2 linked regions of the Homo sapiens genome follow. The protein of the gene in region 1 interacts with the protein of each later gene in a pairwise test. Each region holds a gene or a part of one and is shown in the gene's direction. Other genes may lie near its edges. The genes, in order: KATNAL1 and GUCA1A.

Region 1 (7,296 bases):
ATATAAAGATATTAGTTGAGTTTTGAGCATTTGTTAGAGGTTCCTATGGGATATTCAGGTGGAGGTGCATTTTAGTCTGGAGTTCAGAGAGAGCAGGCTGGAGTTAGAAGTTTGCATATAGATAAGTAATTAAAGCTACAAGGGAGAATGGACCAGCTCACATTGGAGTAATGAGTAGAAAAGAAAAAGGAAGAGGTTTGGATATGGAACTCTCATTTAAGAAATGTGTGTAGGCCGGGCGCAGTGGCTCGCGCCTGTAATCCCAGCACTTTGGAAGGCTGAGGCGGGCAGATCAGGAGATCAAGAGATCGAGACCATCCTGGCCAAGATGGTGAAACCTCGTTTCTCCTAAAAATATAAAAATTAGCTAGACATGGTGGCGCACACCTATAGTCCCAGCTACTCAGGAGGCTGAGGCAGGAGAATAGCTTGAACCCAGGAGGCAGAGGTTGCAGTGAGCCAAGATCATGCTGCTGCACTCCAGCCTGGTGACAGAGCGAGACTCCGTGTCAGGAAAAAAAAAAAAAAAAAGAGTTGTGTGTATGTGTTTGCGGGAGGAGCCTACAAATGAGACCCTAGTTAGGAGGCATAGAGGAAGAAGAACTGGGAGAGAGCATAACAAAGGAGGGGAAAATAAGGAAAGAAAGTAAGTTGTCTAATTTTGTGTCTCCAACTTATTTTCTGCATGATCATAGGCAGGTCTCCAAATCTGTACCCTTATTTCATATGAGGTGTTAATACTATTTATTTGATTTTGGGAAGTTGAAACAGTTTAGTGGAGGTAAACCCTAAAGTGCTCAACAACTGAAAGCATTTCTTCTCCCACTTCCTTACTAACAGTGTGGCAGGACTGCCAGTTCTGTCTGATAGAAAGGCCCTGTTCTAGACTTTACTTGACCATATTAAGCAGGTGGATCAGGTAGTAGTTATATTACAAAGTGATGATTAGAGTCTGAGGACTAATCAATTTTTTAAAATGAAGCTTCCGTTAATGCTATAAAATGTTATTGTATAGGGCATTAATACCAATGTACTTTTGCCTTGTTTTCATCTTCAAAGAAACAGGAAGTTCCACTAGATAATATGAGAGCTCAATGGCTCTAAAATTCTTCAATTCTGACAGTATTTAATGTCTGGACTGATTTGTGATTTCACTGATATTTGAGCATCTGTAAATGAAAATATGTTTATATTTTAATGTGCTCAAGAGTATTTCATTTTATTTTTATTTTTTGGAGACAGGGTCTGACTCTGTCACCTAGGCTGGAATGCAATGGTGCAGTCATAGCTCACAGCAGCCTTGAACTCCTGGGCTCAAGCAGCCTTCCTGTCTCAGCCTCCCCAGTGGCTGGGATTTCAGGCATGTGGCCACACCCGGCTCAACATTATTTTAAACATTTTTCTCTTCAGTGATAACTATACTTATATATGGTAGTCCCAGGGAAATTGTGCCCTAGAATACCTGATAAAAGTGAGATATGGGCATTTGCCAGATAAATTCAAGGCATAGATTGTGAGAGTAGTTTAAAAAAAATGGAGTAGTTTTTCAAGGTGGTTTAATCTTCACTGGATGTCTTTAGATATGTTTCTTTTGCTGGGGTATGGTTTGATTGTGGTCCTAACTGAACGGATGGCAAAGGAGTAAATGACCTTTTAAGTCCTTTTGTAACTTTGTTCTGTCCATTAGTAATTGTAAAAGCTCCTATTAGGCAGCCTATTAAAAAGTGAGCTTTGGTTTGAAATCTTATTCTTTTTAATATTTTGCTATGAAGCTGTTTTTAGTGAGCACTTTTTATAGTTTTTAATCATATCTCAGTATTGTTTTGCATTTTGTAAAGAATTTAATGCTTAGTTGCTGATCCCCCAATTGTATTTACTTCCCAGGGTATTATAGAACTCTTTAGAATGGTTATTTTGTGGACATTTATCAAACACATGTGCCTTGCATTTGAGTTCAAGAAACATTATTGTGTGTCTTTATGTCAAACAGTGCACCAAATGATACATGATACATGAATAAGATCTGGCCCCTCTCTCAAAGGATGTTACATTTCAGTCAGTGCTCAAACTAGTTTTGGTATACTCACTCTTGTGTTTTTTAAGGAAATCATCTCCAAAAAACAATGTATTTTATTTCTTATTTTCTTAGCTTTTACGTGTTTGAGGGACAAACAATATAACTTCATTTGCTGTATTTCAATAAGTTGTTCCTTTATTCTCGTTTATTCCTGTCTCTGTGAGTGTCTTTATATGTCAGTATTCTTTTCTTTCTGATGTTTTACTCTTTCCATTTTTCCTGGTGATTTGGCAGTAGGAAGAGAAATGAATGAGAGAATCAGTAGTGACTGTTTTTTTTTTCTGACCTACTTCTGTGAGAGTATGGATGACTGGTATTTAACACATAATTCCTGATATTTTTATACTTGTATTTTCTCTGCATTATTAGATATTATTTGAAGTCAAGAATTTTATGTTAGTGAACTCCACGTGGCCTTACATTGTTTCTTATATGTATATAGGTTATTTGCTTAATGTGGTAGGTGCTTACTAATTAGTTTAGATTGAATGATGAATGGATGAGTAAGTAAATATGATTATAAAATTACTTGTTCAAAGACTACTTGAGTCTGGGTGTGGTGGCTCTTGCTTGTTATCCCAGCACTTTGGGAGGCTGAGAGGGGCAGAAAGCTTGAGTCCAGGAGTTTGAGACAAGTTGCCTGGGCAACATGGCGAGACATCATCTCTGCAAAAAATACAAAAATTAGCCAGGCGTGGCTGCGCACACCCGTGGTCCCAGCTACTCAGGAGGCTGAGGTGGGAGGATTGGTTGAGACTGGGAGGTCCAGGTTGCAGTGAGCTGAGATTGCACCATTGCACTCCAGGCTGGGCGACAGAGTGAGACCTTGCCTCAAAAATAAATAAATACATACATACATACTTCATAAAATACAGTAATATGAAGCAGATGGTTTTGAAAGGTTTTAGGCTGTTCAAAGCACTATGAAATTAAAAAACAAGTAGTATTTAATTATATAGGCAACCACAACAAAATATCTTTATTTCTGTTAATAAGCCTTTTATATTTATTTTTAGATTAGCTGCGTAACTTTAAAGGAATTTGAGGCAGTAAATTGTAATGAGCCAGGAGGACAGGCTCTGAGTTAGACACATCTGGGTTCAAATCCAGGCTCTATGGGCAAATTATTTAAATTCTTTAAAGCCTCAGTCACCTCCTCTGCTAAATGGTGGGTAACTGTTACTGTTTTGTAGTGTTATAAGGATTAGATGAGATAATGCCTAGAAAAACATTTTTATCGTATTACTTGGTGGGGAGTTAGCATTCAATAAACATCGCTACTATTATTTTTGTGCTAAAAAGGGTATTTATGCAATTAGATAAAGTTTATAGGGTTTTTTTTGTTTGTTTTTTTCAGACAGAGTCTCACTCTTGTCGCCCAGGTTGGAGTGCAGTGGCGCCATCTCGGCTCACTGCAACCTCCGTCTCCTGGGTTCAAGCTTCTGCCGCCTCAGCCTCCTGAGTAGCTGGGACCACAGGCACTCGCTACCACGCCCCGCTAATTTTTGTACTTTTTTAGTAGAGACGGGGTTTTGCCATGTTGGCCAGGCTGGTCTTGAACTCCTGACCTCAGGAGATCCGCCTGTCTAGGCCTCCCAAAGTGCTGGGATTACAGGCGTGAGCCACCATGCCTGGCCAAGTTTATAGTTTAAGCTGTCATCTTGAGACACAGTAACAGATGATCCACATTTTCTGTCCTTTGTAATATTTTAAAGCTGCCAGTAGAATTTAGAACATGAGCAGAAATTACTGTGATGGTTACTTTTGAGAAACGTTTAAGCTCTTAGAACCCTATATTAGTATCTAGATTCTTTTATGTTTATGAACAGTTTTTTTTTGTTTCTAAAATATTTGAGAAGTGATTTGTATACATGTAAAAAATAAATGAAAAGCCTTAATTACTACATACATTCTTCTGTAATGTCTGGGTTTGTGGTTGTTTTCTTTATTATTCATGGCAAACTGTAGTCCTTGAGACTATTACCCAAAATAAAGAGATGGGAGGTATTGTGGTTTTCAAAATTAACTATTTGGTTGATTAGTACTCACATAGTAGGTTCATTTATTGTGCTTGAAACATACTTCAGGATGCATTAATTTGAGAAGTCATGGTTATGTGTTTCCTTAATTGCTTTTATTTATAGCAGCCATTGTATGACATAAACTGGACTTCGGTGATTTGGAGAAACTTTTTTTTTTTTCATTAAGCATGTAAAGCCTGGACATATTGATAAAATTCATTGTGGTACAAAATATTGAAAATAAAACTTGATTTGTTGTTTTGCTTACCACTGTTCTAATTAGTGTTATTTAGTTCACATTGCTATAGTTCAGGTTACTTAGGTGTTTCTGAAATAGGCATCTACTTTCAGGAATTTACAACTTTTAGGAGGAAAAGGAACAATAGGAGAAAAATATGGAAGTGTCAGAATAAAAATAGTTTAAAGCAGAAATTATTTTCTTAGCCTCATATGTATTGTAAGTATAACTGAATTAGATTGACATCATTCACATAAAATTAGTTTAAAAAATGTTTTGTTTCCTCTTCAAAAACCATTACTGTGGAGACAAAAGAATGATAAATATTATGATTTCATTTGTAAAAGGAATTATGAGTGACATCCCTGGTGGGATTGGGTTCTGGATACAAGCTAGCTTTTCATTTTTTCAATTATATGTCTTAGTCTTGGCATGAGATAAAAAATTCAAGTATGTTGGGAGAGAATGTGTGTGTGTGTGTGTTGTGGGTGATGGTAGATTTAAAGGAGAGAACAGAAAGGTTGGAGATGTAGCTGAAAAGATGGCTTTATGTGTTACATTTAGATCTGAGTCATGAAACAGTTACAAAAATAATTATCTGGAACCAGATAAAGCAGTATTCCTTCTTGATCTGAGCATGAACTTGGACTGAGCTCTTCTCAGTCTGAGCCTAGAACTCTCCTTGAAGGTATTATCTGGAGCATTCTGTATAGGGCAACTTTGCTGGGTCAGTTCAGCAGTAAATACTGTAAGAAGATGCTTAATTTATTTTTGAATACATAATCTCAAAATAAGAGACATTGTCAAATATTAGACATTGCTAAAATATTTTGTCTTTAGATTTAACCTGACATTTTAAAAAGACCTAGAAATTCTTCTAATTTATATTAAAGGAGATTTAAAAAACTATGTTTCAAGATTATGACTAAAAATAATTTTAGTATAGCTTCTAGAAATTTATAATGAAAATTGAATCAGTTGATTTCTTTTTTTCAGAGGAAAAATTAACTGCTTCAGTTATCTGCATTGATGTTGAGTGTAGAGTAAAAATATTCCTTATATTGATTCAGTGTTGTATGTGAGGAATGATGTTAACATATGATCACATTTAATTTTTAAAATAACCTTATGATAAATATTATTTTTCCTATTTTGTAGACAGAATTGAGGCTTATTGAAATTATATGATTTGCCTGAGGTCACAACTAAAAATTTATGGTGCCTGGATTCATATCCAGGCTTTTCTGTCTGAAATTTTTATGTGGCCTTTATCAAACATAAACTTGAATGGTTTGGTATACAATTCTAGGTTGCCAACCCCCTACACCCTTACCCCTTGGAAGATATTATTTCATTGTCTCCAGGCTCCCACTGTTCCTCTTGAAAAGTTAGCTGTCAATATAATTTCTTTCCTTTGTATATAATTTGTCATTTCTTTCTGTTTTAAATGTTCTTCAGTCTTACTACCTTGTCTCTAGGTGTGAACTTTGATTTGCTTTGAAACTGAAAATTATTGTCTTCTGTTAGTTTTGGAAAATTCTCAGCCACTGTATTTTTGAATTTTGCCTTTCTTTTTTCTCCTGGAATTCATAATAGACATACATGATGGATCTTCTCTTTCTACTCTGTTGCATTTCTTAATCTTATTTACTTATTCTCTATATGCTGCATTCTGGTCAGTTTCTGCAGCTCTGTCTTCTGGTTTATTGATTCTCCTTTTATCTGTGTCTAATCTCTTGCTTCCTCAGTCCACTGAGTTTTGTTTTTATTTCAGTGACTATATATTTTAATGCCAGAAGTTCTTTTTGATTATTTTTCAAATAAGCTTATTTATTTTAAAATTTCTTGTCCCTATGTCTTTAAATGTACTTATTTTACAGTAGCTAAAAAGGCCTTAATTTTGCTTTATGTTGTATTAATTCTCCCTCATAGTGGATTGCTTTCTTTGTATCTTGTAATTTTAGATGTAAACTCAGTGGAAATAAAGTAAAGCCTGGGTAAATGATATGTCCTGTACTTTTGTGATTTGTTTCTGTGAAGTGCGCTATGGAGAACTGATGAGTGAATAAACAAATTTTAGTATGTCTATATAATGGGATACTACTCAGCAATAAAAAGTAATTACTGATACATATAAGGGCATAGTTGAATCTCAAAAGCATTATTCTAAATGAAGGAAATCAGAGTATATACCATATGAGTTTATTTATTTTGCATTCTAGAACTGACAAAACTGCAGGCATACTTGAGAGATACTGTGGGCTTTGTTTCAGACCATTTTGGTAAAGCAAATATTGCGATAAAGCTAGTCACACAAATTTTCTGGTTTCCCAGTGCATATAAAAGTTACGTTTACACTATACTATAGTTTATTAAGTGTGCAATAACATTACGTCTAAAAAATGTACATGTCTCAATTTAAAAATACTTTAAAAATTTTTAACTTTTATTTTAGATTTAGGGGGTACATCTGCACGTTTGTTACATGGGTATATTGCATGATGCTGAGGTTTGGGATATGAATGATCCCGTCACCCAGAGAGTGAGTGTAGTAGCCAAAAGATAGTTTTCCAACTCTTGCCTGCCTCCCTCCCACCTCTATTAGTTTCCAGTGTCTGTTGTTGCCATCTTTATGTCTAGGAGTATCCAATGTTTAGCTCCCACTTATATGTAAGAATATGTAGTACTTGGTTTTCTGTTCCTGCATTTATTTGTTAAGGATAATGGCCTCCAGCTACATCCATGTTGCTGCAAAGGGCATGATTTTGTTCTTTTTTAAGACCATATAGTATTCCATGGTATATATGTACCACGTTTTCTTTATCCAATCCACTGTTGATGGATACCGAGATTGATTCCATGGCTTTGCTATTGTGAATAGTGCTGCAGTGAAGATACGAGTGCATGTGTCTTTTTGGTAGAATGATTGGTTTTCTTTTGGGTATATACCCAGTAATGGG
Region 2 (4,489 bases), on another chromosome or scaffold:
CTCATCTACACCCATGGCACACAATCACACTTTGCATAATACTGTCTTGACCCATTGTCATCAGCATGGAGCAGTTTAGCAGATTGGCTAGGAGATGGAACACAGGATTGGGAAGTTTTTGTTGTTGTTGTTGTTTTGTTTTTTGTTGTTGTTGTTGTTTTTTGAGATGGAGTTTTGCTCTTGTCACCCAGGCTGGAGTGCAATGGCACGATCTCGGCTCACTGCAACCTCCACCTCCTGGGTTCAAGTGATTCTTCTGCCTCAGCCTCCTGAGTAGCTGGGATTACAGGTGCCCACCACCACGCCTGGCTAATTTTTGTATTTTTAGTAGAGACAGGTTTTCACCACATTGGCCAGGCTGGTCTCGAACTCCTGACCTCAGGTGATCCACCTGCCTCGGCCTCCCAAAGTGCTGGGATTACAGGTGTGAGCCACTGCACCTGTCCAGAAGTTTTGATACAGAGAGGAGTTAAACAGGGACAGGCAAATGACAGCACACAGGCCTGTTTTTGTAAATGAAGTTTTATTAGAACTCACCACATCTATTTATTTACGTAGAGAATTGTCTATGGCTGCTTTCACGTAAAATGACAGAGGGTGTTTGGCTGCAAAGCTGCATATTTACTCTTTGGCTCTTTACAGAAAAAGTTTGCCATTTTCTAATAAAAACTAAAAAGTTTTTAGTGCAAGTGCCAGCCCTTGCACTAAAAAATGGTTGTATCTTTGGGTATTGCACCAGATGTGCAGGGCTGGGGAGTACAGAGTGTGACTGGGGAGTGAAACCTGGGGGACAGGCCATTTGCTTTGCTTACTTCAAATGTTTGTCTGGGCTTGGGTTTGTCTGACAATCACACAGGTGCACACAAATCAATGCAAATCTCCATCTGCATTTGAGTACTGATATAGGATGATTTAGGAGAGGCTTTGTCATTCACTAGCTGTTTGGCCTAATCTCTCTCAACTTTGGCTTTGTCATTCAAACTAGAGACAAAAATATTCACCTCTTGGGGGTGGCTTGAGATTAAATGAGTAAAATGAATAAAGCACTCAGCCTAGGAAGTCCATGGAGAGCACTAAGAAAAGTTAGTATTGCTATATATTTTCATTGAATCTAATGCATACCACAATCTTGAAAAGTGCACACTGTCATTCCATTTTATACCTGGGAATACGGAGACTCAAGGTCATGTGACTTATCCAAGGTGATTTAGATCTTTCTGGCACAAAAATCCACACCTTTTCCATTGCCCCTTTTTAGACATTAAAAAAAAAACCTGCAAAAGCAATCCAGCTCATTGTAGAAATTTCCAGCAATACAGAAAGATAAAAAATGAAGAGCAAAAGTATCCTCACCTGGTGTCCCCTCCCCCAGAGGAAACCTCTTTAGCAGTTTTCTTGCTTATTCAAGCTGTGCTGTCTAGGGGCCTCTCTGGGCTCTGTGCTGATGACAGTCCTGGGAGGTGGGTTGGGACTGAATGAGCCCACTGTGGGGTTCAGAGTGTTTAAGGCCTTCCGGGGGCCTCAGCCCCTCAGGCAGCAGGGTGAGAAACTCCCAAAAGCTCACCCAAACCACGCTCCCATCCCTGGGGGTGCAGTTCTTCCTCCTCCCACCTACGCACATGTCTCCCATTTCCCCTAACTGGAAAGGCTCATGCTTGACAATCACAGGGAAGCAGGCAGCGCTCGCTAAAACCCAGATGCCTGTGAACAGACAGCGCCAGCCATTCACACCCCAGTGGATGCTGGCTTATTAGATTTGATTGGCAGCCTCTGGAGTAGGCAGGGTGGGCTATACAGGGCGTCTAGGAAGACAGATAGGTCACGGCGGAGACAGGGCTGGCCCCCTCGCTGCATCTCCGAGGGTCCGGGTCTCCCCTCAGCGTCTCTTGGGGCTTGCCGAGATGGGCGGAGCCTTGGGTTATGATGGGCGGGGCCTGAGGCTGGAGTGAGCGGGGCCCGGATGGGCTCACGGCGGCCGCGCCCCTCGCCCAGGACGGCTACATTGATTTCATGGAGTACGTGGCAGCGCTCAGCTTGGTCCTCAAGGGGAAGGTGGAACAGAAGCTCCGCTGGTACTTCAAGCTCTATGATGTAGATGGCAACGGCTGCATTGACCGCGATGAGCTGCTCACCATCATCCAGGTGCAGAGGGCCCGGCCAGGGCTGGGGGCAGCGGTCTGGGGTGGGACCCGGAACTGAGAGCCCAGGGTTAGAACAACAATCTCAGGATTGAGACAGGATGTGGGACTGAGGATCCTGGTGGCAGCTGTAGGCCTCACCAGCTGCGTGACCCAGGCCACGTTCCTTCCCTTCCTTGGCCTCAGTTTCCTCATCAATACCAAAAGACGATAGAAGTTTGACTCTTGAGTCCCAGCTCTGCCTAGGCCCCCGGGTACCCTGCACTCTACTCCTCACTGCTCTTGGGAGCCGGACAAGCTCTGACCGTCCCCAATCCTACCCCTGAGATAGGATAAGGATGGGCCCCTCTCACTTCTGCCCCTTCTTCCCTCCCAGGCCATTCGCGCCATTAACCCCTGCAGCGATACCACCATGACTGCAGAGGAGTTCACCGATACAGTGTTCTCCAAGATTGACGTCAACGGGGATGGTGAGGGGGCCGAGGAGGGGCTCCCCAGCGGAGGGGTCACCATGGATGTGGGGTCACCAGGGGTGGAAGGTCACTAAAGGAGAGGGTGAGGAAGGGAGGAGAGGCCCAAAGGCCCCCGTGCTGGTCACTTCCTCCACCTGCCTCTGCCCCAGCCACAAAGTTGGCTTTTAGGGGCCCCTGGACCAGAATCTGGGCTCTGGGTTCCTCTGCTTGCTGCACCCGCAGCAGGGGCTCTGACTTCTCCTCACGTGGGCTCTGTCCCTGCCCCTGGCAAGAACCCGGTTCTGTGCTCTGGACTGCAGAAATGAACACCCTCCTCCCCCTGATTCCCTTTCTCTCTACCCCAGGGGAACTCTCCCTGGAAGAGTTTATAGAGGGCGTCCAGAAGGACCAGATGCTCCTGGACACACTGACACGAAGCCTGGACCTTACCCGCATCGTGCGCAGGCTCCAGAATGGCGAGCAAGACGAGGAGGGGGCTGACGAGGCCGCTGAGGCAGCCGGCTGAGTGCACCGCCCGGCTGCTTCTGCACTAGCGGGTGGGGTGGTATGGTGGTGCCTGTTGGTGGTGTTCTTGTCTTAACCCTAGATAGAATCTAATGAACTCAGAGGCTTAGCTCGCCTCTTTAGGGTCCATGGTGGCAGCAGAGAGGCAGAAGTGGGAGTCCAGAGCCAGGAACAGTGAAGGATGGTTCCTGGCCCCTCTGAGTGACAGCTGGTGGCAGCACTCCTTGCTGGGGGGCACTGTTCAACATCCCTCTGCCGTCGGGTGACCCCCTAGCCCTTCTGACTCCTCTCCCAGCTTTTCCCAGCTTTCCCCACTGAGCTTCTCCAGTCCATGCTCTTCTGGACGTGGACTCTCTGAGGCAGAACTGAGCTTTTCCAGGCCTCTTATGGAATCCTGCAGATCCAGTGGCTGCAGCTTCAATCCCAGTGCTGCAATCACACATCCATTCTGCCCTGGGGGACCCTGGAGCCTACTTGTGCGCTTTGCATTTCATTGATTGACGCCTCCCTTCAACAAGCATTTACTGAGCGCCTACTATGTACTAATGCTAGATGTTAGATGTACAAAGAAGACAGTTTTCATCCTCTAGGAACTCATAGGCTAATGGTGAGACACACAGACAAACATCATTATAATAAAATATGCTAAGAGAAGTTATGAATAGATTTCTGTAGAAGACACCTACAGGCGTCTGACTCAGAGGCAGCATCACAGAGGTGACCTTTGACTTTGAACAGGAAAGAGTGCTTCGGGGCCGAATGTAGAGAAGAAGGTGATGCATGTGGGGTGGTTGGAGATGCATTCTCTGTGATGTATGTGTCACATGTGGGGGGCTGTGTGATGTGGACAGGAGCATTCTTAGGTGCAAATTTGGGGTATCCCTTGGGATTTAAATTTTACCAAATTTAAAACAGTAAGAATCACCATATCTGTTTTTAGGGAGTACCCCAGTAAGGGAAAACAAACAAACATAGCTTCTTCAAGAGATTTATAATCCTACTAGCAAGATAAGGATGGGATGTTTTGCCAGGTGTGGTGGTAAATGCCTGTGATCCCCAATACTCAGGAGGCTAAGGTGGGAGGATCCCTTGAGCCGAGGGGTTCAAGACAAGCCCAGGCAACATAGTGAGACCCCTCTTCAAAAAGATAAAAGGGAGCCGGGAGCAGTGGCTCATGCCTGTAATCCCAGCACTTTGGGAGGCTGAGGTGGGCAGATCACCTGAGGTCAGGAGTTCGAGACCAGCCTGGCCAACGTGGTGAAACCCCGTCTCTACTAAAAATACAAAAATTAGCTGGGTATGGTAGTGTGCTCCTGTAATCCCAGCTACCTGGGAGGCTGAGGCAGAAGAATTGCATGAACCAGGGAGGCAGAG

What was found.
Region 2: the proteins of KATNAL1 (region 1) and GUCA1A interact in binary tests that used the Homo sapiens proteins (3 or more experiments, as listed by UniProt).

The regions. Positions count from the first base shown.
Region 1 is NC_000013.11:30,297,504-30,304,799, reverse strand, and holds part of KATNAL1 (katanin p60 ATPase-containing subunit A-like 1), read left to right. Parts: intron 1-7,296. UniProt on the Homo sapiens protein: Regulates microtubule dynamics in Sertoli cells, a process that is essential for spermiogenesis and male fertility. Severs microtubules in an ATP-dependent manner, promoting rapid reorganization of cellular microtubule arrays.
Region 2 is NC_000006.12:42,176,288-42,180,776, forward strand, and holds the end of GUCA1A (guanylyl cyclase-activating protein 1), read left to right. Parts: intron 1-1,992; coding exon 1,993-2,142; intron 2,143-2,514; coding exon 2,515-2,608; intron 2,609-2,955; coding exon 2,956-3,116; 3' UTR 3,117-3,769; downstream 3,770-4,489. Other genes in the region: GUCA1ANB-GUCA1A (guanylyl cyclase-activating protein 1), read left to right, coding at 1,993-2,142, 2,515-2,608, 2,956-3,116. UniProt on the Homo sapiens protein: Stimulates retinal guanylyl cyclase when free calcium ions concentration is low and inhibits guanylyl cyclase when free calcium ions concentration is elevated.